Linked DNA regions of Homo sapiens. The protein of the gene in region 1 purifies or fractionates together with the protein of each later gene. This does not show direct contact. Each region holds a gene or a part of one and is shown in the gene's direction. Other genes may lie near its edges.

Evidence for each region.
Region 2: the proteins of CNBP (region 1) and DDX27 purify together in Homo sapiens (affinity purification with mass spectrometry; 2 studies listed by BioGRID and IntAct, with this or other methods). This does not show direct contact.
Region 3: the proteins of CNBP (region 1) and DDX24 purify together in Homo sapiens (affinity purification with mass spectrometry; 2 studies listed by BioGRID and IntAct, with this or other methods). This does not show direct contact.
Region 4: the proteins of CNBP (region 1) and PPAN-P2RY11 purify together in Homo sapiens (affinity purification with mass spectrometry, with the first as the bait; 2 studies listed by BioGRID). This does not show direct contact.
Region 5: the proteins of CNBP (region 1) and ZNF512 purify together in Homo sapiens (affinity purification with mass spectrometry; 2 studies listed by BioGRID and IntAct, with this or other methods). This does not show direct contact.
Region 6: the proteins of CNBP (region 1) and RBM34 purify together in Homo sapiens (affinity purification with mass spectrometry; 2 studies listed by BioGRID and IntAct, with this or other methods). This does not show direct contact.
Region 7: the proteins of CNBP (region 1) and ZFP62 purify together in Homo sapiens (affinity purification with mass spectrometry; 2 studies listed by BioGRID and IntAct, with this or other methods). This does not show direct contact.

The regions. Positions count from the first base shown.
Region 1 is NC_000003.12:129,170,612-129,173,896, reverse strand, and holds part of CNBP (CCHC-type zinc finger nucleic acid binding protein), read left to right. Parts: intron 1-2,125; 5' UTR 2,126-2,139; coding exon 2,140-2,263; intron 2,264-2,358; coding exon 2,359-2,451; intron 2,452-2,613; coding exon of another isoform or gene 2,614-2,619; coding exon 2,620-2,818; intron 2,819-3,285. UniProt on the Homo sapiens protein: Single-stranded DNA-binding protein that preferentially binds to the sterol regulatory element (SRE) sequence 5'-GTGCGGTG-3', and thereby mediates transcriptional repression. Has a role as transactivator of the Myc promoter.
Region 2 is NC_000020.11:49,239,916-49,243,415, forward strand, and holds part of DDX27 (probable ATP-dependent RNA helicase DDX27), read left to right. Parts: intron 1-1,977; coding exon 1,978-2,072; intron 2,073-2,167; coding exon 2,168-2,291; intron 2,292-2,678; coding exon 2,679-2,766; intron 2,767-3,500. UniProt on the Homo sapiens protein: Probable ATP-dependent RNA helicase. Component of the nucleolar ribosomal RNA (rRNA) processing machinery that regulates 3' end formation of ribosomal 47S rRNA.
Region 3 is NC_000014.9:94,053,703-94,057,202, reverse strand, and holds part of DDX24 (ATP-dependent RNA helicase DDX24), read left to right. Parts: intron 1-2,018; coding exon 2,019-2,207; intron 2,208-3,500. UniProt on the Homo sapiens protein: ATP-dependent RNA helicase that plays a role in various aspects of RNA metabolism including pre-mRNA splicing and is thereby involved in different biological processes such as cell cycle regulation or innate immunity.
Region 4 is NC_000019.10:10,112,617-10,115,872, forward strand, and holds the end of PPAN-P2RY11 (PPAN-P2RY11 protein), read left to right. Parts: intron 1-1,016; coding exon 1,017-2,122; 3' UTR 2,123-2,497; coding exon of another isoform or gene 2,498-2,513; 3' UTR 2,514-2,756; downstream 2,757-3,256. Other genes in the region: P2RY11 (P2Y purinoceptor 11), read left to right, coding at 1,017-2,122; EIF3G (eukaryotic translation initiation factor 3 subunit G), read right to left, coding at 2,498-2,513, 2,863-2,969, 3,068-3,204. UniProt on the Homo sapiens protein: May have a role in cell growth.
Region 5 is NC_000002.12:27,589,542-27,593,041, forward strand, and holds part of ZNF512 (zinc finger protein 512), read left to right. Parts: intron 1-3,500. UniProt on the Homo sapiens protein: May be involved in transcriptional regulation.
Region 6 is NC_000001.11:235,154,751-235,158,250, reverse strand, and holds part of RBM34 (RNA-binding protein 34), read left to right. Parts: exon of another isoform or gene 1-1,585; coding exon of another isoform or gene 1,586-1,656; intron 1,657-3,138; coding exon 3,139-3,370; intron 3,371-3,500.
Region 7 is NC_000005.10:180,847,111-180,851,276, reverse strand, and holds the end of ZFP62 (zinc finger protein 62 homolog), read left to right. Parts: coding exon 1-2,485; 3' UTR 2,486-3,194; coding exon of another isoform or gene 3,195-3,214; 3' UTR 3,215-3,666; downstream 3,667-4,166. UniProt on the Homo sapiens protein: May play a role in differentiating skeletal muscle.

The DNA.
Region 1 (3,285 bases):
GGGTCTTTGGCACTGTGGTTAGGTTAGCTAATTCGATTATCCACTCAAGTTTTACTCAGTTGGAAATATGTTTTTCTAGATGATGGTGCCTGTGCTTAGGTTTGAGAGGATATTTAAAATACGACTTTGTGTGCCATTGTTTGACAGTGGAATTAAGGGTAAAAATATTTAGATATGGAAGTGTGAAAATGTAGTTGCATTGTTTTCATTATGTTCTATTCCATTTCATTCTATTTTAAGAATAGCCTCAATTTATTTTTAGATTGTTACATAAGTACAAAATCCATTTGCTTTAGTGGGAGTTTTATTTTTATTTTAAAATGATAACCAATTAAAGGAGTTTATTATGAAATTCTAAGTAGCATTGTTTAAAATGTAAAATTACATTACAGAAACATTTGGAAAGGGGAGAATAAAAGAAAACAAAACACAAATGTTGCCAGTGCTGTAGGTGCTATTATTAGCGCTTTGGTGTAACTCATGGTCGTTTTCCTACTATTTTTATTATACAGTCATCTCTTGGTATCTGTGAAGTGGTTCCACAAACTCCCTCAAATACCAAAATCCTCCTATGCTCAAGTTCCCAATATAAAATAGTGTAGTACTTGCATTACAACCTTTGCACATCTTCCCATATACTTTAAAATCATCTTTAGATTACTTATAATACCTAACACAATGTAAATGCTGAATAAGTAGTTGTTAACATTGTATTGTTTAGGGAATAATGGCAAGAAAAGTCTGCATGTTCAATACAGATGCAACTTTTCCACTGAATATTTTTATTCCAAGGTTGGTTGAAGCCATGGATGCAGAACCCATGGATATAGAGGGCCTACTGTACTTGTACCATCTAGAGATAAGATTTGTATCTTGCATTTGTTTTAACATATCTGTTCTAAGGAATATCTCAGTCACCAGGCAAGTGCTGCAGTATAACTAGGTACTACGTCAGGTGCTAAGGTTAAGAGAGTATTTTCCTTCACTGACTCCTCACTCCGAGAATCCATTTTACAGCTTCATTGGTTTGGGTTATTCCAATTTTTTGATGTGAGTAAATAAATGACTTCTATTTGCCCAAAATAAAGCTTATATAGGCCTTATAACCATGCAAATGTGTCCATTAAGTTGGACTTGGAATGAGTGAATGAGTATTACTGCCAGTGTGTGTGTGTGTGTGTGTGTGTGTGTGTGTGTGTGTCTGTCTGTCTGTCTGTCTGTCTGTCTGTCTGTCTGTCTGCCTGCCTGCCTGCCTGCCTGCCTGCCTGCCTGGCTGCCTGTCTGCCTGTCTGCCTGCCTGCCTGCCTGCCTGCCTGCCTGTCTGTCTCACTTTGTCCCCTAGGCTGGAGTGCAGTGGTATGATCTCGGCTCACTGCAACCTCCACCCCCCGGGTTCAAGCGATTCTTCTGCCTCAGCCTCCTGAGTAGCTGGGATTACAGGCGCATGCCGCCATGCCCGGCTGTTTTTTGTATTTTTAGTAGAGACGGGGTTTCGCCATGTTGGCCAGACTGGTCTCAAACTCCTGACCTCAGATGGTCCACCCGCTTCAGCCTCCCAAAGTGCTAGGATTACAGGCATGAGCCACCGTGCCCAGCCACTACCAATTATTTCTCTTAATGGATTTTCATTGACCCTAACCCTGTAAATTCCATCACTTTTATCAAGGTGTATATTATAATAAGTCTATAATACCCAATCATGTAGTTGTGTGATTATTTTATTTTTTTGAGACAGAGTCTCAATGTTGCCCAGGCTGGAGTACAGTGGCACCATCTCAGCTCACTGTAAGCTCCGCCTCCTGGGTTCACACCATTCTCCTGCCTCAGCCTCCCAAGTAGCTGGGATTACAGGCGCCTGCCACTTCACCGGGCTAATTTTTTGTATTTTTCGTAGAGACGGGGTTTCACCATGTTAGCCAAGATGGTCTCGATCTCATGATCCACCCACCTCGGCCTCCCAAAGTGATGGGATTACTGGCGTGAGCCACCATGCCCAGCTATTTTTTTAACCAATATATTAGCTAGCTTTTTTCCCCAGAATAATTTTCCAAAAATACATTTAATAGAGAATAAAAGTTAAAAGAACTTTCAGTGGTTTAATGCTGTTACTTTTAATATTTCAAAGATCTGACTGCAGCCATGAGCAGCAATGAGTGCTTCAAGTGTGGACGATCTGGCCACTGGGCCCGGGAATGTCCTACTGGTGGAGGCCGTGGTCGTGGAATGAGAAGCCGTGGCAGAGGTGGTTTTACCTCGGATAGAGGTATTTTGTCGAATAGAAAAATTTGAAGTACTTCAGTATTTGTTAGTATCAAGACTGGTCTGACTAGCCGAATTCTTTGTTTTTGCTCAAAACAGGTTTCCAGTTTGTTTCCTCGTCTCTTCCAGACATTTGTTATCGCTGTGGTGAGTCTGGTCATCTTGCCAAGGATTGTGATCTTCAGGAGGATGGTAAGTATTTAACACTTCCTTTTCATACCCCTCTAGAGCTTGGAGAGGTGAGCACATGCAACTGTGTATAGCATTTCCACCTTTGAGGTTTTGTATTGTATAATTTAAAACGTAACACTTTGTAAAGGTTTTATAGTCTTGGCCTGTTTCTTTTCCTTATTGTTGAAGCCTGCTATAACTGCGGTAGAGGTGGCCACATTGCCAAGGACTGCAAGGAGCCCAAGAGAGAGCGAGAGCAATGCTGCTACAACTGTGGCAAACCAGGCCATCTGGCTCGTGACTGCGACCATGCAGATGAGCAGAAATGCTATTCTTGTGGAGAATTCGGACACATTCAAAAAGACTGCACCAAAGTGAAGTGCTATAGGTAAGGTGTCAGAATGTTGTTAGAAGAAAACTCATTGCAGAGATTCTTCCAGAGATGAATTAGCTATAAATGGAAGGGCCTTAGTAAATTCAGTGAAACTTAGCTGTGACCAGATAAGACCAATTTTCAGCATATGTAACTGGCAGTCTATCTGTATATAATTCTGTATTCTGCCCTGATATCCTGTGGCTTATGGTACCTGGGCAGTTTTCACAACTGGACTTTTTTAATATATAAAAGTAAGAGTGTTATAATTTGAAACTTCCAGAGACTTCATAGAAAGCTCTGTAATATACATAAATCTTTTATCATGTAACCAGAAATCTTTGCCTGTTTGTGACATGTAAGTGTATAATTTGATAAATGTTGTTGTGTACATATCTGTGAAACCTTAGGGGTTAATTGCATGAAAACAAAGATCAGGCGTTTTGTTCTGCATGGTGACTGTTGCTTTGGTAGACAGTTTT
Region 2 (3,500 bases), on another chromosome or scaffold:
AAGGATGAACCTTGAAAATCTTAAGCTGAATGAAATAATCCAGACACAAAGGGACAAATACTGTCTGATTTCACTTACCTGAGATATCTAGCTAGGCAAATTCACAGAGACAGAAATAGATTATAGATTACTTAGGGCTAGGGGAAGGGGGGTTATAGGAAATTATTAGTGGTTGCAGAGCTTCTGTTTTCAATGATGTCAGTGAGTAGCCTCCTGATAGGAGTTTTGGAAACAGATAGTGGTGATGGTTGTACAATGTTGTGAATGTAAGTAATGCCACTGAATTGTATACTTAAGATTGGGTAAAATGGCAGCCTTTGTTTTATATGTGTATATATAACCACAATAAAAATAATTTTAAAAAAGTTAGGAGATATTTAATACAGATTTCCTCTCCATCTCCCTTTAAAAAAGACCCAAAACACTTATAAGTTCACATTGTTCTATGCCTCGCCTTTTCACTTAATTTTGAAGCTTAGAGATATGTTTTATATAGGCCCACATATGCTGCCCTTTTTGTTTTTTGTTTTCAGACGGAGTCTTGCTCTGTCACTGAGGCTGGAGTGCAGTGGCGCAATCTCGGCTCACTGCAAGCTCTGCCTCCTGGGTTCACCCCATTCTCCTGCCTCAGCCTCCTGAGTAGCTGGGACTACAGGTGCCTGCCACCGCACCTGGGTAATTTTTTGTATTTTTAGTAGAGATGGGATTTCACCGTGTTAGCCAGGATGGTCTCGATCTCCTGACCTCGTGATCCGCCTGCCTTGGCCTCCCAAAGTGCTGGGATTACAGGTGTGAGCCACTGCACTCGGCCCCCTTTTTGTTTTTTTTAATGGCTTCATGTTCTTCCATCATATGAGTAGATTGTTGAGGGACATTGAGGTTGTTTACAATCATTTGTCATCCAGCCTGGGCAGCATGGCAAAACCCCATCTCTACTAAAAATCAAAAAATTAGCCAGACATGGTGGTGCATGCCTATAGTCCAACTACTTGAGAGGCTGAGGTAGGAGGATCACCTGAGCCTGGGGAGGTCAAGGTTGCAGTGAGCTAAGATTCTGCCACTGAACTGCAGCCTGGGCGGCAGAATGAGACCCCGACTCAAACCACCACCACCAACAACAAAAAACCCAAAAAATAATCATTTGTCATTACAAACAAGTGATGTAGGGAATAACCTTGCACATATGCCCTTTTACAATTAAGCAAGTGTATATTTGGCTTGCAGGATTAATTCCTAAAAGTGGAATAGTGGGTCAGAGGATATTTGTATTTCTAGTTTTGTTAGAGGTTGCAAAATTTCCCTCCTAGAGGGTATACCAGCAGTTTTAGAAATGCTGTCTATATTTGATGGGACAAAATAAGGGTGTATATAACTTAAATTTCTGATAAAAATAGAGTTATAACTGTATTGGTGGGTAAAGTAGTAAAGTGACCTAAATCTTCATCCTTCATAGCAGGAGGTTTGTAATGAGTATCTTAAGTGGATTGAGAAATAGTCAAAAAAGCATGTTATTTAGTGAGATGGAGGTAATCAGTGGAAGAAGTGCTTGCGGCTTTTCTTTTCTTTTTTTTTTTTGAGGCAGGGTCTCGCTCTGTCGCCCAGGCTGGAGTGCAGTGGCGCGATCTCAGCTCACTGCAGCCTCCCCTTCCTAAGTTCAAGCAATTCTCTCACCTCAGCCTCCCAAGTAGCTGGGATTACAGGTGCACCACCATGCCCAGCTAATTTTTGTATTTTTAGTAGTCGGGGTTTCACCATGTTGGCCATGCTGATCCCAAACTCCTGACCTCAGGTGATCCACCCACCTCAGCCTCCCAAAGTGCTGAGACTACAGGCACGAGCTACTGCACTCGGCCAAGAAGTGCTTGCCGCTTTTCATTTTAATCTGCTAACTTACCAATTGAAAACGTGCACTTCTTATCGTAAGCTTAAAAAAAGATAAAATCATCCCTGAAATCTTATGCTTTCTTCTCATCCCAGTTGCCAAAGCTCTGCAGGAATTTGACTTGGCCTTAAGAGGAAAGAAGAAAAGGAAGAAGTTTATGAAGGATGCCAAAAAAAAGGGGGAGATGACAGTGAGTGGCCTCCCTTTTGGAGTTTGGGCCCACTCGGTGGGGTGGGTCAGAGTGGCCTGGTGTGTTCCACACTCACACCTCCCCACTCCCCCTAGGCAGAGGAAAGGTCTCAGTTTGAAATCCTCAAGGCGCAGATGTTTGCTGAACGGCTAGCGAAGAGGAATCGCAGAGCCAAGCGGGCCCGAGCAATGCCCGAGGAGGAGCCAGTGAGAGGTCCTGGTAGGTGAATGGGGAGCCCAAAGGAGCTTGTACAAGGTTTTCCCTGAAACCTGTGCTTTGGGTCAGGGAGAAAATCTGAGGGATGATGACAGTAGCCCACATTATTTGAGTAATTAGTATGTACCAATGTGTACAGCTATCCCTCCACGGTCTAAGGGGCGCAGTGACCTTGTGGTTGTTGAGAACTAGGATTTGAACGCCAGCTTTTCTGACTCCGGAGCCTAAGGCCTCACCAGCTGCTACTTGGAGGAGCTGGTGAGGACAGAATGAAAATAGTCTTTGGATGCCAGAGTATCCACTGAACTTGGAATCATTACCTTGAACTTAAGGGGATTTAGGAGCTTGGGCCAAAGACAACCATATGTAACCCATTCTCTCTGTGCACAGCCAAGAAGCAAAAGCAGGGGAAGAAATCTGTATTTGATGAAGAACTCACCAACACAAGCAAGAAGGCCCTGAAACAGTATCGAGCTGGGTAGGATTTTAAGTCATCATGGAGCCCTTGGTATTCTTTTTTTTTTTTTTTTTTTTTTTGAGACGGAGTCTCGCTCTGTCGCCCAGGGTGGAGTGCAGTGGTGCATCTTAGCTCACTGCAAGCTCCACCTCCTGGGTTCAAGCAATTCTCCTGCCTCAGTCTCCCAAGAAGCTGGGACTATAGGCGCACGCCACCATGCCCAACTAATTTTTGTATTTTTAGTAGAGATGGGGTTTCACCATGTTTGCCAGGATGGTCTCGATCTCTTGACCTCCTGATCCACCCGCCTCAGCCTCCCAAAGTGCTGGGATTACAGGCTTGAGCCACCGTGCCCGGCGAGCCCTTGGTATTCTAATGGAAGCTATGAGTCTTCTGCCTCCTTCCCCATTTCCAGTTTTTGCACACCTATAGCTTTATACTATGTAAATTCAAGGGTACCTGTCTGTTCTCCACCCCCCACCCCTCTCAGAGCCACCTGAGGATCCCAAGGTGAGAACAGGAGAGGGGTGTTCAGTTAGCACTGTTCCTGCCTTGGAGGTGAAATAGTACATTGTTGGGTTCAGAAATGGAGCTTTCCTTCAGGGGAGTGATAACTCTTTCATCTCAAGTTCCATCCTGCAGAACCCCAGAGAATCCTGGCTTGCTCTTAGGAATATGTTGTCCCACACCATTTTCCCCAGCCCAAGGTTGGGGCAGGGGCAGACTAAGCTTCCCAAGTAGTGGTATATACCTAA
Region 3 (3,500 bases), on another chromosome or scaffold:
GCCAGGCTTTGAATCCCCAGTCTGCTGCTTCATAGTTGGTTAGCTTTAGGCAAGTTATTTAGTACCTCTGGTTTCAGTGTCATTGTTTGTAAACTGGAAGTAACAACTAGCTACCCCATAGGGTTATCCTGAGAATTAAATTGAGCTGATGCTGATGAAGCCGGTAGCACAGTGTAAGTACTCAATAAATGGTAGCTGGTATGGCATTATCATTTTTCCTCTTTAATTCCTCTTTGTGCTTTTAAAAATCTTTTAGGCTGCTGTTTCAGAGAAACAACAAACTCACAGTGCTTTTTCCCATTCTCTCACTTCACAACAACAATCAACATAGAAGACTTCTGTAACCAAATGTGTGGGCGTTTTTCACCACATATCAAGCAGCAGCCACCAGCTGGGTGTCCTCTAATTTAGTTTCATTTTCTGATGCTGTCTTCCTGGAGATAGCCTCAGATCCCACAAGATGTCCCTCCTCCCCGCAACCAGTCGATAAGTCAGGGCCTCTGGAACTTCTGACCAACCAGCTTCAAGTTGGGGTTCTCATGACCCCCCGCTTTGGGTTCAATTAATTTGCTACAGCAGCTCTCAGAACTAAAAGAAACACATTTACCAGTTTATTATAGAGGATATTACAAAGAATATAGATGGGGAGATGTATAGGCTGAGGTACAGGGGAAGGAGCATGGAGTTGCCATGCCCCTCCTGGGTACACCACCCTCCAGGAATGTCCACATATTCAGCTTATTCAAAAGTTCTCCAAACTCTGTCCTTTAGGAATATTTATGGAGACTTCATTGGGTAAGATGATTAATTAAGCCATTGGCCTTTAGGAAGTAGTGCTGCAAGTCCCAACCTTCTAATCCTGCCTTGGCCTTTCTGGTGACCAGCCCCCATCCTGAAACTACCTGGGGGGCTATCAGCCATCAGTCAATAGTTTGTCATTAGTATACAAAAAGACATTACTTTTGAGATTCCTTTGCCAGGAAACAGGATGAAGAGCAAATACATATTTCACTGTATCACAGGTGCTAATTTTGGTTTAGCAAATCTCTATAGTCTTCCCTTTTTTGGGGAAGGAGCTGGGTCAACCTTTGTGGAGTCAAGATGAATCAAATACAGTCCCAGCCCCTAAGAAGTATTGGATCCAGCAGAGGAGGTGAGATGACCACAGCCATAATTTAAGGCAGAAGGTATTAGAAAATTACAAAATACAATGGAAGAGAGAGGTAACTTCTAGTTTGGGAGGTTGGAAAGTACTTTCTAAAAACATGCCTGGCATTTAAGGGTGAAGAGGATTTGGACATATAGAGGCATTAAAGGAAGGAGCAAAGAAATGGGCAGTGTTCAGGGGCACTTGGCTCACAGTGAGAAGAGGGTATGTGTTGGGAAAGGAATAGTTGCTGAGGCTGGAGGGGTAAGTTGAGGGCAAGTCACTAAAGGCGCTGAGTGTCAGGTTGAAGAGTTGGGCCTTTATCCTGTAAGTAAAGAAAGGCAAATCTCATTTCTAGAACTCTTATGAACAGTTCATAGTGGCTACTTAAAGTACTGTATTGAAAAGGATACCTAGATGTTATCTGGGCCCAGTGGAGAAGACTGTTGTGCTTGATTAATGGTGTGTGCCAGGGGCTCAGTGGGTGTGTTAGCAACCATGCCACATTATCTATGGATAAAATATATATAGGAGTAGAGACCGTATAACCCAGGGATTAACATGGTCTGTGGAGCTGGGCTGCTTAAATCCTGGATAAGAAGTGACTGCTGTGGTCTGGCTGCATGGTCCTGAGGACCTGAACCAGGGTCAGGGGCATGGGAGGGAAGAGCCTACACAGTGAATGGGCTAAACCTGGGAACATTTTGAATGTGGGACTAAGAGAGGAGGGCTAGATTGCTCTACAATGCTGCAGAAGTTTCTACCTGCCTGGCTGGGAGGTAGGAGGGTCTGGTTTGGGGATGTGGCCCTGAGGAGAGGACCAGTGTTTGGCAGTGGCCATGTATTGATCTCCCAGTTCTTCCTGTGGCAGGTCCCACGTACCTCGGAGATTTATGTCCACCGAAGTGGTCGAACTGCTCGAGCTACCAATGAAGGCCTCAGTCTGATGCTCATTGGGCCTGAGGATGTGATCAACTTTAAGAAGATTTACAAAACGCTCAAGAAAGATGAGGATATCCCACTGTTCCCCGTGCAGACAAAATACATGGATGTGGTCAAGGTAGAAAGCAGTTAAAACCCCAGTGCTAATGAAGGGATTGTGCTGCTCCCTTGCAGAGCACCTTGCTGTGGGACTCTGGCAGCATAACCCTTGAAAACTAAGGAATGGTTCTGCCAACAGCTGAACAAGGAGACTTGTAGAAAGGATTGAGAGCAACATACCTGGGAAAAGGGAGAAAAGGGGAGTGACTGAAGGTGGGAGGCATTTTCTCCCTGAACCATTTCTTCCTTCTCTGGCCCTGAAGTCCCCCCTCCTCACCAGACAGTGCAGTGGTCATGGCTGTCTGGATATCCTGTCAGAGGGTTGTAGACAGTGTGGTTAGTGTTTCCTGCTGAGGCAGATGCTACAGGTTTGGCACATCCCTGGAGCAGGTGCCAGTAAATTCTGTCTTTTGGGTTTTAACTCAGCAGGCATTCCCCAGGTAGGTGCCGCTTACCATGGGACACTGTATTAGTGACCAAAGTGGGGTGGGTTCTCCTTCCCAGAGGTTTGCCAGCTGTGAATAAAGTTCAGGTACAGTGGAGCAGTATGGAATTACTGGGCATATGGTTACATTGGGAGGAGAAGAGGTTCTATCCCAGCTTCCTGCTGGCAAAGATGTGGAAGGGTACAGAGGAGGTGGAATTCCAGGAATTGAGGGAGCAAAACCATGGCACAGTTCAAGGAATGTTGGCTTCTCTGGCTCAAAAGGAATATTAGCTGTGTGGGGAAATAGGGTGGAGATAAGGATGGAAAAGTGGAAATCATAGAGAATTCCCATTAGTAAGGAGGATTAGGAGCCACCCAGGCTTCCCTTGGTTTCTTTCCCCACATCACAAGATCCTTCTCATTTTGCCACTGCACTGTAACCCCAAAACCCTCTAGAGGGAGAGTTGAAATGTTTTATCTTAGCTCAGCTGTGGAAGCAAGCTGTGGCATCTGCGTAAAGACTTCACTTTGGTTACCTATAGGTTGGCAGTCAAACCAGTAAGGGTTTTCAAAGGATGTGGCTGTTCAGGTTGATTGTTGGGAAAGCTGGCAGTTGTGTTTAGATGTGTACACACAGACGGGTAATGGTTGCCCACTGGACTTTTATCAGGAAGCAATAAATGCATTTCAACAGGAACTGAACTGCATCTCACCACTGATCTCAAGAGCTTTTTATTTATTTATTTTTAATTTTTAATTTTTAATTTTTTTTTGAGACGGAGCTTTGCTCATGTTGCCCAGACTGGAGTGCAGTGGCACAATCTTGGCTCACCACAACCTTCGCCTCCCGGGTTCAAGTGATTCTCCTGCCTCAGCCTCCCAAGT
Region 4 (3,256 bases), on another chromosome or scaffold:
CACGGACGTGGGAAGAGGAGCCTCAAGAATGTCTGGGTGTGGCTGGGCACGGTGGCTCACACTTGTAATCTCAGCACTTTGGGAGGCTGAGGCGGGCAGATCTGAGGTCAGGAATTCGAGACCTCTTGGCCAACATGGGGAAACCCCATCTCTACTAAAAATGCAAAATTTAAAATTAAACCAGGCGTGGTGGTGGGTGCCTGTAGTCCCAAATACTCAGGAAGCTGAGGCAGGAGAATCACTTGAACCCGGGAGGCAGAGGTTGCAGTGAGCTGAAGTCACATCATTGCACTCCAGCCTGGGTGATGAGAGTGAGACTCTGTCTCAAAAAAAAAAGTCTGGGTGCGAAGGTACCAAGGCACAAGTCTGCAAGAGCAGCCAGGAAGCCTGGGTGGGCTGGTGCGAGGGAGTGAGTCGCGGAGCACAGAGGGTGGCACTGGGGGGTATGGCGGGCGGGAGCGCTCTTGGGGGACCTTGTGGGGTGAGTCTGGCTTTTTGGCGGCAACTCCCTGGCCAAGTGTGAGCACCTGGAAGCAAAAGGATGGGGCAGGACTCCAGCGCTCGCGGGTGCTCTCTGGTGGCCACGGGGAGAAGAGGCTTTGGGCGGCGGCGGGTGCCAAGGTCAGGGCAGAGTGGGGGCTGGACCCCCACGGGGCTTTGGACGGCACAGATCTGAAGTGGAGCCGGCAGGCCTTGCTGGGGCTGGACTTTGGGGAGGAGGCCTCTAGTGGGGCCAGGTGTGGTGGGGGAGTAGGGTGGCCGCTGTCTGTGTTACCAGTGGACCTTGAGCTCCAAGACTGCCTGGCCCGCCTAAGCTGGTCCATTGGGGCCCAATGCATAACCCTGGCTCTGAGCCTCAATCCTGTCCACATAAAGGAGTGGAGCCCGGTCCCCCTCCAGGGAGGGGAAAGAACTCGTGTCCAGGGATCCACGCCATGGCAGACGTGGGCTCTTGGGGTAGCAGGAGCCGCCTTATGGGGGAATAGGGCTCAGCTGGTGACACCTTCTGCCCACAGGTGCCAAGTCCTGCCCTGCCAACTTCTTGGCAGCTGCCGACGACAAACTCAGTGGGTTCCAGGGGGACTTCCTGTGGCCCATACTGGTGGTTGAGTTCCTGGTGGCCGTGGCCAGCAATGGCCTGGCCCTGTACCGCTTCAGCATCCGGAAGCAGCGCCCATGGCACCCCGCCGTGGTCTTCTCTGTCCAGCTGGCAGTCAGCGACCTGCTCTGCGCCCTGACGCTGCCCCCGCTGGCCGCCTACCTCTATCCCCCCAAGCACTGGCGCTATGGGGAGGCCGCGTGCCGCCTGGAGCGCTTCCTCTTCACCTGCAACCTGCTGGGCAGCGTCATCTTCATCACCTGCATCAGCCTCAACCGCTACCTGGGCATCGTGCACCCCTTCTTCGCCCGAAGCCACCTGCGACCCAAGCACGCCTGGGCCGTGAGCGCTGCCGGCTGGGTCCTGGCCGCCCTGCTGGCCATGCCCACACTCAGCTTCTCCCACCTGAAGAGGCCGCAGCAGGGGGCGGGCAACTGCAGCGTGGCCAGGCCCGAGGCCTGCATCAAGTGTCTGGGGACAGCAGACCACGGGCTGGCGGCCTACAGAGCGTATAGCCTGGTGCTGGCGGGGTTGGGCTGCGGCCTGCCGCTGCTGCTCACGCTGGCAGCCTACGGCGCCCTCGGGCGGGCCGTGCTACGCAGCCCAGGCATGACTGTGGCCGAGAAGCTGCGTGTGGCAGCGTTGGTGGCCAGTGGTGTGGCCCTCTACGCCAGCTCCTATGTGCCCTACCACATCATGCGGGTGCTCAACGTGGATGCTCGGCGGCGCTGGAGCACCCGCTGCCCGAGCTTTGCAGACATAGCCCAGGCCACAGCAGCCCTGGAGCTGGGGCCCTACGTGGGCTACCAGGTGATGCGGGGCCTCATGCCCCTGGCCTTCTGTGTCCACCCTCTACTCTACATGGCCGCAGTGCCCAGCCTGGGCTGCTGCTGCCGACACTGCCCCGGCTACAGGGACAGCTGGAACCCAGAGGACGCCAAGAGCACTGGCCAAGCCCTGCCCCTCAATGCCACAGCCGCCCCTAAACCGTCAGAGCCCCAGTCCCGTGAGCTGAGCCAATGATGTGGCCTAGCGGAAGCTGCCTCCTCACCCTAGGTGTTGCTGGAGAACCCTGAGGGCAGGGCCCGAGCCCCGACACATCCCTTCCCCCAAAAAGCAACACCTGTGCTTGCAGCCAGGTCAGGCCCAGCTGCAGCCCAGGCAGGAGCAGTCGCCTTTCCCACCCACAGCGCTGGCCACAGGGCTCCCTGCAGGGTCAGGGACCAGACCACGCCCAGAGGAGGGGAGGCACTGGCCCCCGCCACAGGACTGGAGACGCAAGAACAAAAAGAACCAAGTAGAGAGAGTGGAGCTGCTTTATTGCCCTTGGAGCCCGCGCTCTCGGAGGCTGTCTTCTGTCGCCAAGGGTCCCGGACCGAGTACACAGTGGCAGCTGGCTTAGTTGGTGGACGGCCTGGGGTAGGGGAGGGTGGCAGGTATAAGACTTCTGGGGGCACCCCAAGACCCCAGACACCCAAGTGGCATCTTGGGGGTGGGTGGGCAGAGGACGGGGTAATGTGAGGACGAAGCGGGCACGGAGCCAGATGGCCAGTCTCCAGGCCTGGTCCACGGACTGGCAGGGACCCCAGGCACAAGAGCTGCCACCCCTCTGCCCGGTTTTGGAAAAAAACAATAAAGGACTGTCCCCTCAAAACCAGCCGGGGGACTGTTAAATTGGCTCAGGGCTATTGGTTGGCCCAACACTCCGTGAAGGTGCTGGGACAAGGCAGGGAGCAGGGGCTGGGGCAGGGATGGAGTCTTACTTGGCCCACTCGACGTTGAGGATGAGGTGGTCGTAGCCAAAGCCGGACACCCCGGCAATGGCACGCGCAGCATCCTCGCGGCGGTGGAAGCTGATGAAGGCAAAGCCCTGTGGAGGGGCGGGATGGGGTCGGGCACGAGCTAGGACAGGCGACCCTAGGACAAGTGACCCTCACACAGCCCCACCGTGCCTGCCTGCCTGCCCACCTTGGATTGGCCAGTGGTCTTGTCCTTAGCCAGGTAGATGCGGGAGATGGAGCCGAAAGGCCGGAAGAGCTCCTGCAGGTCGGTCTCACGCGTGTCCTCTGACAAGTTGGTGACACGGATGGTGGCGTTGTCGTCGGCTGTGTGGGAGAGGGGAGGTGGCTGTGAGGGGGAGGACACTGCCCAGCCCTC
Region 5 (3,500 bases), on another chromosome or scaffold:
ACATTTCCCCTATTGTCTGTTTTCTAGTTCATGGGTTTCTCCTCTTACCTTACCTTTTCTTTGGTTTACTTTGCTTTTCCTTTTAAGGTATCTTAAGATGAAATCTTAAGTCATTGATTTTAGATCGTTTCTAGTATAAGCATTTAAAGCTTTAAGTTTCTAAGTATTGCTTTAGTTGCATCCTACAAATGTTGATATGCATATTTTTGTTGTTTTTCAGTGCAAAATATTTTCAAATTTCATTTGTGATTTCATTTTGGACCTATGAATTATTTAGAAGTAGATTATTTAATTTGCAGATATTTGGATTTTTTGTGTTTTTTGTTTTTAGATATCTTCCTATTATTGACTCCTAAGTTGATACCAATGTGGTCAGAGAATACACTGTGTAATTCTCATCCTTTTAATAAAAGTTAAAGTTGATGGCCCAGCGTAAGATCTAGCTTAATGAATGCATAATGTGCACTTGAAAAGAATATATATCCTGCAGTTGTTAGATGTAGTGTTGTGTAAATGTTAACTAGAGCAAGGTGGCTAATAGTGCAGTTCAGATCATTTATGTCTTTTACTGAATTTTTATCTAGTTCTATCAGTTGCTGAAAGGGGGAGGTCTTAAATTTTCTGCTAAGATTGTGGAATTGTCTATTTTTCCCTTTAATTTTGTCAGTTTTCGCTTTGTGTATTTTGAGGCTCTATTATTAGGCACATACAGTGGGTAATTATGCCTTCCCAATGATTTGACACTTTTGTCATTATGAAGTGTCTCTTTTTATCTCTGGCAGTACTCTTTGTCTTGAAGTCTGTTTTATCTGATATTAAAATAGTCATTCCAGCCTTATGTTTGCTGATTGTATGATACAATTTTTTCATCTGTTTATTTTCAATCTATAGATGTCTTTATATTTTAGAGTGTGCTTCTTGTAGGTAGCATGTAGTAGGGTATCACTTTTTATTTTACTCTGTCATTTGCTGACTTTTAACTGGAGTGTTTAGACTGTAAACATTTAAATTAATTATTGATATGGTTGGATAGGTCTGCCCTTTTATTTTTTGTTCTCTGTTTATCCATTGTTTTTTGTTCCTGTGTTTCTTCTTTTGGATTATTTGAATGCTTAGTGTCTGCCCCTACTCTTGTTTTTTTAAGAGACAGTGTCTTGCTCTGTTGCCCAGGCTGGAGTTGGTGGCACATTCATTGCTTGCTGGGCTGAAGTGATCCTCCCACCTCAGCCTCCCAAGTAGCTGAGATTACAGAGGTGTGAGCCATCTACCCCGGCCTGTTTACCATTTCTGTTGCTCTTTCTTCATTCTTAAAAATCCAAGTTTCTCTCTGGTATTATTTTTCTTCAGCTGGAATCATTTGTTTTAGCATTTCATATGGAGCAGGTCTGCTTACAATGAATTCTCTTAGTTTTATTTCTTAGGATATTTTCACTGAATATAGAATTCTGAGTTGACAAATTTTTTCTCTCAAAATTTTAAAGATATTTCTTTTTCCTTTTCTTTTTTCTTTTTAGAGACAGGGTCTCACTCTGTTGCCAAGGCTGAAGCGCAGTGGTGCGGTCATAGCTCACTGAAGCCTCAAATTCCTCAGCTCAAGGGATCCTCTCACTTTAGCCTCCCAAGTAGCTGGGACTATAGTTGCATGGCACCACACCTGGATAATTGCTTTAAAATTTTTTTATTTTTATTTTTGTGGGTACATAGTAAGGATATATATTTATGTGGTACATGAGATGTTTTGATACAGGCATACAATGTGAAATCACATCATGGGGAATGGGATATCCATCCCCTCAAGCATTTATCCTTTGTGTTATAGACAATCCAATTACACTCTTTTAGTTATTTAAAAATGTACAATTAAGTTCTTAAAATTATTATTATTATTATTTTGAGACAGAGTCTCGCTCTGTCACCAGGCTGGAGCACAGTGGTGTATCTTGGCTCACTGCAACCTCCGCCTCCCGGGTTCAAGCATTTCTCCTGCCTCAGCCTCCCGAGTAGCTGGGACTACAGGCGCATGCTACCACGCCCAGCTTTTGTATTTTTAGTAGAGATGGGGTTTCACCATGTTGGCCAGGATGGTCTTGATCTCTTGCCCTTGTGATCTGCCCACCTCGGCCTCCCAAAGTGTCGGGATTACAGGCGCGAGTCACCGCGCCCAGCCTTAAAATTATTTTTTGTAGAGACAAGGTCTTGCTATGTTGCCCAGGCTGGTCTTGAACTCATGGGCTCAGTCCCCCTGCCTTGGCCTCCCAAAGTACTGGGATTACAAATGTGAGCCATTACACTGGTTCGATTTTAAAGATACTGTACTGCCTTGTGGCATTCTTGGTTTCTGTTGAGAAACCCATGGTCATTTAAATCATTTCCTGTAATGTAATATGTCACTTTTCTGAAGCTTTCTAGTTTAAAACAAAATCTTTGGCTTTGAATAGTTTCTTATTTATTTAAACAATTTTTTTGAGACAGAGCCTAACTCCCGTTGCCCAGGCTGGAATGCAGTGGCGCAACCTCTGCTCACTGCAGCCTCATCCTCCTGGGCTCAGGTGATTCTCCCACTTCAGCCTGCTGAGTAGCTGGGACTACAGGTGCACACCACCACACCTGGCTAATTTTTTGTATTTTTAATAGAGGTAGGATTTTGCCATGTTGCCCAGGCTGTTCTTGAATTCCTGGGCTCAAGGGATCTGCCTGCCTCAGCCTCCTAAAGTGCTGGGATTACAGGCTTGAGCCATTGCACCCAGCTTAGTTTTTTTATTTATTTATTTATTTTTATTTTTTTTTTGAGATGGAGTCTCGCTCTGTAGCCCAGGGCAGCTGGAGTGCAGTGGCATGATCTCGGCTCACTGCATCCTCCACCTCCCAGATTCAAGTGATTCTCCTGTCTCAGCCTCCCAAGTAGCTGGGACTACAGGCACCCGCTACCACACCCAGCTAATTTTTGTATTTTAGTAGAGGTGGGGTTTCACAATATTGGCCAGGCTGGTCTCCAACTCCTGACCTCAAGTGATCTGCCTGCCTTGGCCTCCCAAAGTGCTGGGATTACAGGTGTGAGCCACCATGCCTGGCCTAGTTTATTTTTTATTGAGTTAAAGTATACCCATATAATTTACCATGTTTACCTTTTTTTTTTTTTTTTTTTTTTTTTTTTTTGTTTGAGACAGAGTTTCGCTCTTGTTGCCCAGGCTGGAGTGCAAATGGCGCGATCTTGGCTCACCACAACCTCTGCCTCCCAGGTGCAAGCGATTCTTCTGCTTCAGCCTACTGAGTAGCTGGGATTATAGGCATGTGCCACCATGCCCAGCTAATTTTGTATTTTTAGTAGTGACGGGGTTTCTCCATGTTGGTCAAGCTGGTCGTGAACTCCTGACCTCAGGTGATCCACCTGCCTCAGCCTCCCAAAGTGCTGGGATTACAGGCGTGAGCCACCACGCCTGGCTGATACATTTATATTCTTTTTCTTTTTTTCCTCTCTTCACTCCCTCATGTCTCCCCTC
Region 6 (3,500 bases), on another chromosome or scaffold:
TAGAGATGGGGTTTCACCATGTTGGCCAGGCTGGCCTTGAACTCCTGACCTCAGGTGATCCACCCGCCTTGGCCTCCCAAAGTGCTGGGATTACAGGCGTGAGCCACCGCGCCTGGCCCTTATCCCTCTTTCTGCTAATATAGACGTGCTCACGATTCTAATCTTTAAAAAGGACATTCCCCCTAACCGCCAAAAAAAAAAACCCATGTAATTGCATGTCTCTGTTTGCTACCATTCCCACAGTCCTTCCCTTCAGTCTAGCTTTTAAGAAAAGTAGTCTGTTCTTGTACTCTCTCCCTTCTCTTGATCTGTTCACCCTTCCACGCACTTGGATTCTGGTGGTGGTGGGTTTTATTCTCCGTCCTGACTGTGCCACTGAAGCAGTGCCCACTGAGGCCACCCTGACCTCTCATATGTAATGGGCAGTGCAGCTTTTGTCTTATGAGTCCTCTGTTACCTTTCACGTGGCTGCTTTTCTTGTTGAAGCTACCGGATTCTCTGAGAGAAATCTCTTCTGATTGTCCTCTTGCCAATTCTTTCTTAGTGTTACTGTGGTATCTTTTCCTCTGACTACTCTTTAAATGTGCATTTCCCTCAGGGGTCTCATTCTTGGTCATGTTCTTGTGACCCTTTGTCACCCTTTGTTGGGGGCAGTATCTCTTGTGCCCACCGTGATCTCTCTCCTGATCTCCAGACATGTATGTTTGTTTGCCTCCTGGCATTTGCACCTCTTTATTCCATATGTACCACCAGGTAAGAATGCTCCACTGGGAGCTCATCATTCTCATCAGTCCTGTTCCTTGGCATGAGCGCTACCACTAGCCTTCTAGTTGCCTAAGTTAGTGGCCCGAGAGTCATCCTGTCTTCTTTCCTCTCCTTGCTTAGCTAATCAGTTGCCGAGTCCTGATGATGCTGTTTTTTAATTATCTCTTTAATCTGCCTTTTCGTCTTCACCTCCTTCCCTGCTCTGGTCAGTCTGGTCAGTCTTCTCAGATACACACTGTTGTAACCATCTCCTTACTGGTCTCCCTTCTCCAACCTTATCCTCTTTCTAATTATCTTCCACTCTTCTGCCCAGATGATCTTTTTTAGATGCTCTCAAAGTCTTCAGTGTCTCCTCATCTTCAGTAGGATAAAATCTAAGCACTTTCGTGTAACACTGAAGGTCTCTCCTGACCTGGTTCCCACCTTACTGTACTGTCTCGTTTCCTTTCACACCTGCTAGGTACTTTATATACTGTAGTGAGCAAAACACTAGACATGGACCCTGTCCTCAGGGGAGGAGTAATAGCAGTCAGCTTTTATTGGACTATGTGCCAGACACTGATTTCCTCCTCTGAGAAGCCTTTCTCGTTTATGTTTGCATACCATGTATTATAGCTGTTACCATTTTATTGTGAACTTGGTCTGTCTCTTCACTGCACTGTTGGAGGCCTTTGATTGTTTCTTTATCTTTGTATCCTCAGAGCCTAGAACTGAGTAGGAACCCGGTAAGTATTTGCTGATGAGTGAGTCATTTTTATGATTCTTATTAGCTCTTCTCTTCCCTCACTCCTTAATATCCTTTAGTTCTCCTTTCAGATTGATGCTCAGACCTTGCTTATCCATATCCAGCAATACTTTATATTGTATTTACCGTTTCACAATTTACTTTTGGTAAGAGTCCTTTAAATATTACAGAAGTATTAGAAGTAGGGAATCTGGTTTTTCCTATCAGCCATATTGCTTGTACAGAGTAAGTACTCTGCTGCCATATTAACCTTTTTAGACTCTCAGGGAGTGTGATAGTGCCCCTAAAGGTCTAGAGTAGAAAATGAAATCAGGCATTGATAGAGTGTAAACTAAATCTCCAAGAGCTTTAAGTGAATCAGCTTTTGTATAGATGAACTTGCTGCTGCTGTTGCATGGCAGATTTAACGTGTTCAAAAATTGAGCTTCACTTATTCTTGCCAGGTGCAGTGGTTCACGCCTGTAACCCTAGCACTTTGGGAGGCTGAGGTGGGCGAATGGCTTGAGCTTAGGAGTTCAAGACCAGCCTGGGCAACATAGCAAAACCCTGTCTCTACAAAAAAATATAAAAGGAGACTGGGCGCGGTGGCTCATGCCTGTAATCACAACACTTTGGGAGGCTGAGGCGGGCGGAGCAAGAGGTCAGGAGTTCGAGACCAGCCTGGCCAACACAGTGAAACCTCGTCTCTGCTAAAAAAAAAAAATTAGCTGGGCTTGGTGGCAGGTGCCTGTAATCCCAGCTACTTGGGAGGCTGAGGCAAAAGAATCGTTGTGAACCAGAGAGGCGGAGGTTGCAGTGAGCCGAGATTGCGCCACTATACTCCAGTCTGGGAGACAGAGCTAGACTCTGTCTCAAAAAAAAAAAGTATATATGTATATATATATATATATATATATATATATATATATATATATATATGTATATGTATGTATAAAAGACTGGACATGGTGGCTCACACCTTTAGTCCCAGCACTTTGGGAGGCCAAGGTGGGCAGATAACTTGAGGTCAGGAGTTCAAGACTAGCCTGGCCAACATGGTGAAACCCCGTCTTTACTAAAAATACAAAAATTAGCCTGGCATGATGGCAGCCACCTGTAATCCCAGCTACTTGGGAGGCTGTGGCAGGAAAATCGCTTGAACCCGAGAGGCAGAAGTTGCAGTGAGCCGAAATTGCACTATTGCACTCCAGCCTGGGTGACAGAGCAAAACTCCGTCTCAAAAAAAAAAAAAAAAAGCCACGTGTGGGGGCATGCGCCTGTGGTCCCAGTTACTTGGGAGGCTGAGGTGGGAGGATTGCCTGAGCCTGGGAGGTTGAGGCTGCAGTGAGCTGTGATTACGCTGCTACACTCCAGCCTGGGTGACAGAGCAAGACCCTGTCTCAAAGAAAAAAAAAAAGAGCTTAACTTTTTCTAAATCTTGAGTTAAATCATTTTTTTTCTAAAGATACTAGTCAGTTTCTAGATAGCGCTGCTCTAAAAATTTTGATATATTTGTGAGTAGTAAATCTAGGAAAATTCAGAAGACATTGGGAAATATTTCTAGTCGGGAGGGTAGGGCTGTGCTTTGTCAAATACTAGACCTAACTGGCATGACTCTTACTGCTTATTTTATTTTTTGCCTTAAAAAGGGAAAGCGCTCTAGCGAGTGCTGATTTAGAAGAAGAAATTCACCAGAAACAAGGGCAGAAAAGGAAAAATTCTCAACCTGGTGTTAAAGTAGCAGATAGAAAAATACTTGATGACACAGAAGACACAGTTGTCAGTCAAAGAAAGAAAATTCAAATCAACCAAGAAGAAGAGAGATTAAAGAATGAGAGAACTGTGTTTGTTGGGAATTTGCCTGTTACATGTAATAAGAAGGTGAGTTTGTATATGGTAAAAGTTCAGAGAAGTTAATAACTTTGTTCTTCCTGTGTTGAATAAGCATTCAATAGTAAGTCATGGATATAACTTCATTGTAAATTATTACATAAATCATCCTAATATGAAT
Region 7 (4,166 bases), on another chromosome or scaffold:
CAAAGCCAAGAGTACAGCAAATATAAAGACAGAACAGGAAGGTGAGGCATCTGAGAAGAGCTTGCATCTGAGCCCACAGCATATCACACACCAGACTATGCCTATAGGACAGAGAGGCAGTGAGCAAGGCAAACGTGTGGAGAACATTAATGGAACCTCCTACCCTAGTCTACAGCAGAAAACCAATGCTGTTAAGAAATTACATAAATGTGATGAATGTGGGAAATCCTTCAAATATAATTCCCGCCTTGTTCAACATAAAATTATGCACACTGGGGAAAAGCGCTATGAATGTGATGACTGTGGAGGGACTTTCCGGAGCAGCTCGAGCCTTCGGGTCCACAAACGGATCCACACTGGGGAGAAGCCGTACAAGTGTGAGGAATGTGGGAAAGCCTACATGTCCTACTCCAGCCTTATAAACCACAAAAGCACCCATTCTGGGGAGAAGAACTGTAAATGTGATGAATGTGGAAAATCCTTCAATTATAGCTCTGTTCTGGACCAGCATAAAAGGATCCACACTGGGGAGAAGCCCTATGAATGTGGTGAGTGTGGGAAGGCCTTCAGGAACAGCTCTGGGCTCAGAGTCCACAAAAGGATCCACACGGGGGAGAAGCCCTATGAATGCGACATCTGTGGGAAAACCTTCAGTAACAGCTCTGGCCTTAGGGTCCATAAAAGGATCCACACAGGTGAGAAACCTTACGAATGTGATGAGTGTGGGAAGGCCTTCATTACTTGTAGAACACTTCTCAACCATAAAAGCATCCACTTTGGAGATAAACCCTATAAATGTGATGAGTGTGAGAAATCTTTTAATTATAGCTCTCTTCTCATTCAGCATAAAGTCATCCACACTGGAGAGAAACCTTATGAATGTGATGAATGTGGGAAGGCTTTCAGGAACAGCTCAGGCCTCATAGTGCATAAAAGGATCCACACAGGAGAGAAACCTTACAAGTGTGATGTCTGTGGCAAAGCATTCAGCTATAGCTCAGGCCTCGCAGTCCATAAAAGCATTCACCCTGGGAAGAAAGCCCATGAATGTAAGGAGTGTGGGAAATCCTTTAGTTATAACTCACTACTTCTTCAACACAGAACTATTCATACCGGAGAGAGACCTTATGTATGTGATGTGTGTGGGAAAACGTTCAGAAACAATGCAGGCCTCAAAGTCCACAGGAGGCTCCATACTGGGGAAAAACCATATAAGTGTGATGTGTGTGGGAAAGCCTATATCTCACGCTCTAGCCTTAAAAATCACAAAGGAATCCACCTTGGGGAGAAGCCCTATAAATGTAGCTATTGTGAGAAATCCTTCAACTACAGCTCTGCCCTTGAACAGCATAAAAGGATTCATACCAGGGAAAAACCCTTTGGGTGTGATGAGTGTGGTAAAGCTTTCAGAAATAATTCTGGCCTTAAAGTACATAAACGAATCCACACTGGGGAACGACCTTACAAATGTGAAGAATGTGGGAAAGCATACATCTCTCTCTCGAGCCTTATAAATCATAAAAGTGTACACCCTGGGGAGAAGCCCTTTAAGTGTGACGAGTGTGAGAAGGCCTTCATCACATACCGAACCCTTACAAACCACAAAAAAGTTCATCTTGGGGAGAAGCCCTACAAATGTGATGTGTGTGAGAAATCTTTTAATTACACATCGCTCCTTTCTCAGCACAGAAGGGTCCACACTAGAGAGAAACCCTATGAATGTGACAGGTGTGAGAAGGTCTTCAGAAACAACTCAAGCCTTAAAGTTCATAAAAGAATCCATACTGGGGAGAGGCCCTATGAATGTGATGTGTGTGGAAAAGCCTACATCTCACACTCAAGCCTTATTAACCATAAGAGTACCCACCCTGGCAGGACACCCCATACATGTGATGAATGTGGAAAAGCTTTTTTCTCAAGCAGAACTCTTATAAGCCATAAAAGAGTCCATCTTGGGGAGAAACCCTTCAAGTGTGTTGAGTGTGGGAAATCTTTCAGTTACAGCTCTCTCCTTTCTCAGCACAAGAGGATCCACACAGGGGAGAAACCCTATGTGTGTGATAGGTGTGGGAAGGCCTTCAGGAACAGCTCAGGCCTCACAGTGCATAAAAGGATCCACACAGGTGAGAAACCCTATGAATGTGATGAGTGTGGGAAGGCATACATCTCACACTCAAGTCTTATCAATCATAAAAGTGTCCACCAGGGGAAGCAGCCCTATAATTGTGAGTGTGGGAAATCCTTCAATTATAGATCAGTCCTTGACCAGCACAAAAGGATCCACACTGGAAAGAAGCCATACCGATGTAATGAGTGTGGTAAGGCTTTTAATATCAGATCAAATCTCACCAAGCATAAAAGAACCCATACTGGAGAGGAATCTTTAAATGTGATATATGTGGGAAGTTATAGTGGCACATCCCAGAAGAGAACCTATGAGGGAGGGAATGCCCTGGATGGGGGCAGGATGAGGATGCCTCTGTAGCAGGCAGAGCTTACCAAGTCTCTCCGAACTCAAATGGAAGAAATACCTTATGAATGTAAGAATGTAGGGGGTCATGGCTTGTAATTTACACAGTGTAAATGAAACCATCCTAGAGGATTATGAGGAATCCTTTCTATGTGATTTTCAATCATAGCAAGCAAGAAAGGCTCCAGTGTCAAGGTAGTTCAGCTCTTACAGGATATAAAACAGTCCATACTTGAGAGAAAAACTTAGATCTGAGTGATGGAATGTGAAGCAAATCTTCAAAATCAGTAGACATTTCTGGACATAAAACACAGATGAGGAAAGGGCTTCAATTAGAAGTTACGTAATCACCATCAGAAAGTTCATGTTTGGTAAATTCTGTTACTAGAAATGTAGGAAATTCAGGTATAGCTTTGAATCCCAATTACACATTGGTCAGTGGGAAAACTAAGGGCCTCCAACAGGCAAATTCAGGGAGGATAGGTTTCAGGGAATATAAATTTATTTAATATTAGTGGTCTTTAAGTATAAACTTGATGTAATTGGTTTGGGAGGGGGCAGTGATGATGACTTCTGAAACAAAATTTGGATTTCCTTTTAGGAAAAGTAGAAAGCATAGACTTACAAGTCTAACAGGAGATAGGAGAGAGTCACTCATAAAAAATGCAAATTGATGAACGTACTATTGTGATACATTAGTTGAATGGATGAAACTTTTTTAAAGTTTCAGATGAACTCCCATAATGAATGATGAATTTGTGATGAGGGATAACCTGGAAGTGGTATTCACACATTATGCTACAATAAAAGGTTCTACCGTGGAGAGGATTTTGACACATTCAGTAACTAATGGAACACACCGTCAACATGAATTCGCACCTTACATGACAGAAGTGATTCAGGGATTCCTATGAATAGAAATGCTGAGAAGGAACGCATTTTATTGCAGAAGCTAAAAAGCTAAAGTACCAGTCATCTAGAGAGAAGGAAATTAATGTTTCTTAATAATCCTGTTAAATGTTTGATTGTTTTTGGAATGTGTTATTGTAAAGATGTCATGCAGGACATGTATATGTTGTCTGTTGTAAAATGTTAACGAATACTTTGTTCAGGGCTCACTCTCTCTTTGTCATGAAAGCCAGCTCCTTGTGGCGAGGTAAAGTGGAATTCCAATAAAGAAATTCCTTAAATCAAAACGGGCTGTGAGTTTAGATGGAGGATACCCAAGAGCCATTTGTGTGCCAGATCTTTGTTGGGTAAGTTATACCAGATCCAAACCAGAGAGGGTAGTAGACTCATCCCACAGGGCTAGCAGCTCAGCTGGTTTCACCAGAAGTTAGAAGGTGCCTCCCTAGGAGGAGCACAGGATAGATTTTGAGGGGACCACAGTGGAGCCATGTGATCGTCGTTACTGGGCCAGATCCTAACTCGGGAGCAGGTAGGTTGTGTGAGTGATCAGTCACCACACACAGCTCTGTCAGGAACATGTAGAATTGAACATAAACTACTGCTGTGTATGAAGCTGTTAACTAGGTAACTCAAAGGGTAAAAATAGACTCTTCTGAGAATTGAGTAACCTGTCTGAGAATACTGTGAGTGGGCCAATCAGCAAAGGCTGAATTTGAAGTCTGGTATCTGGTTTCAAAACCCATTGTCTTTACAAGAGAACAATCTCAGCCATGTAGTTTCCCATCTC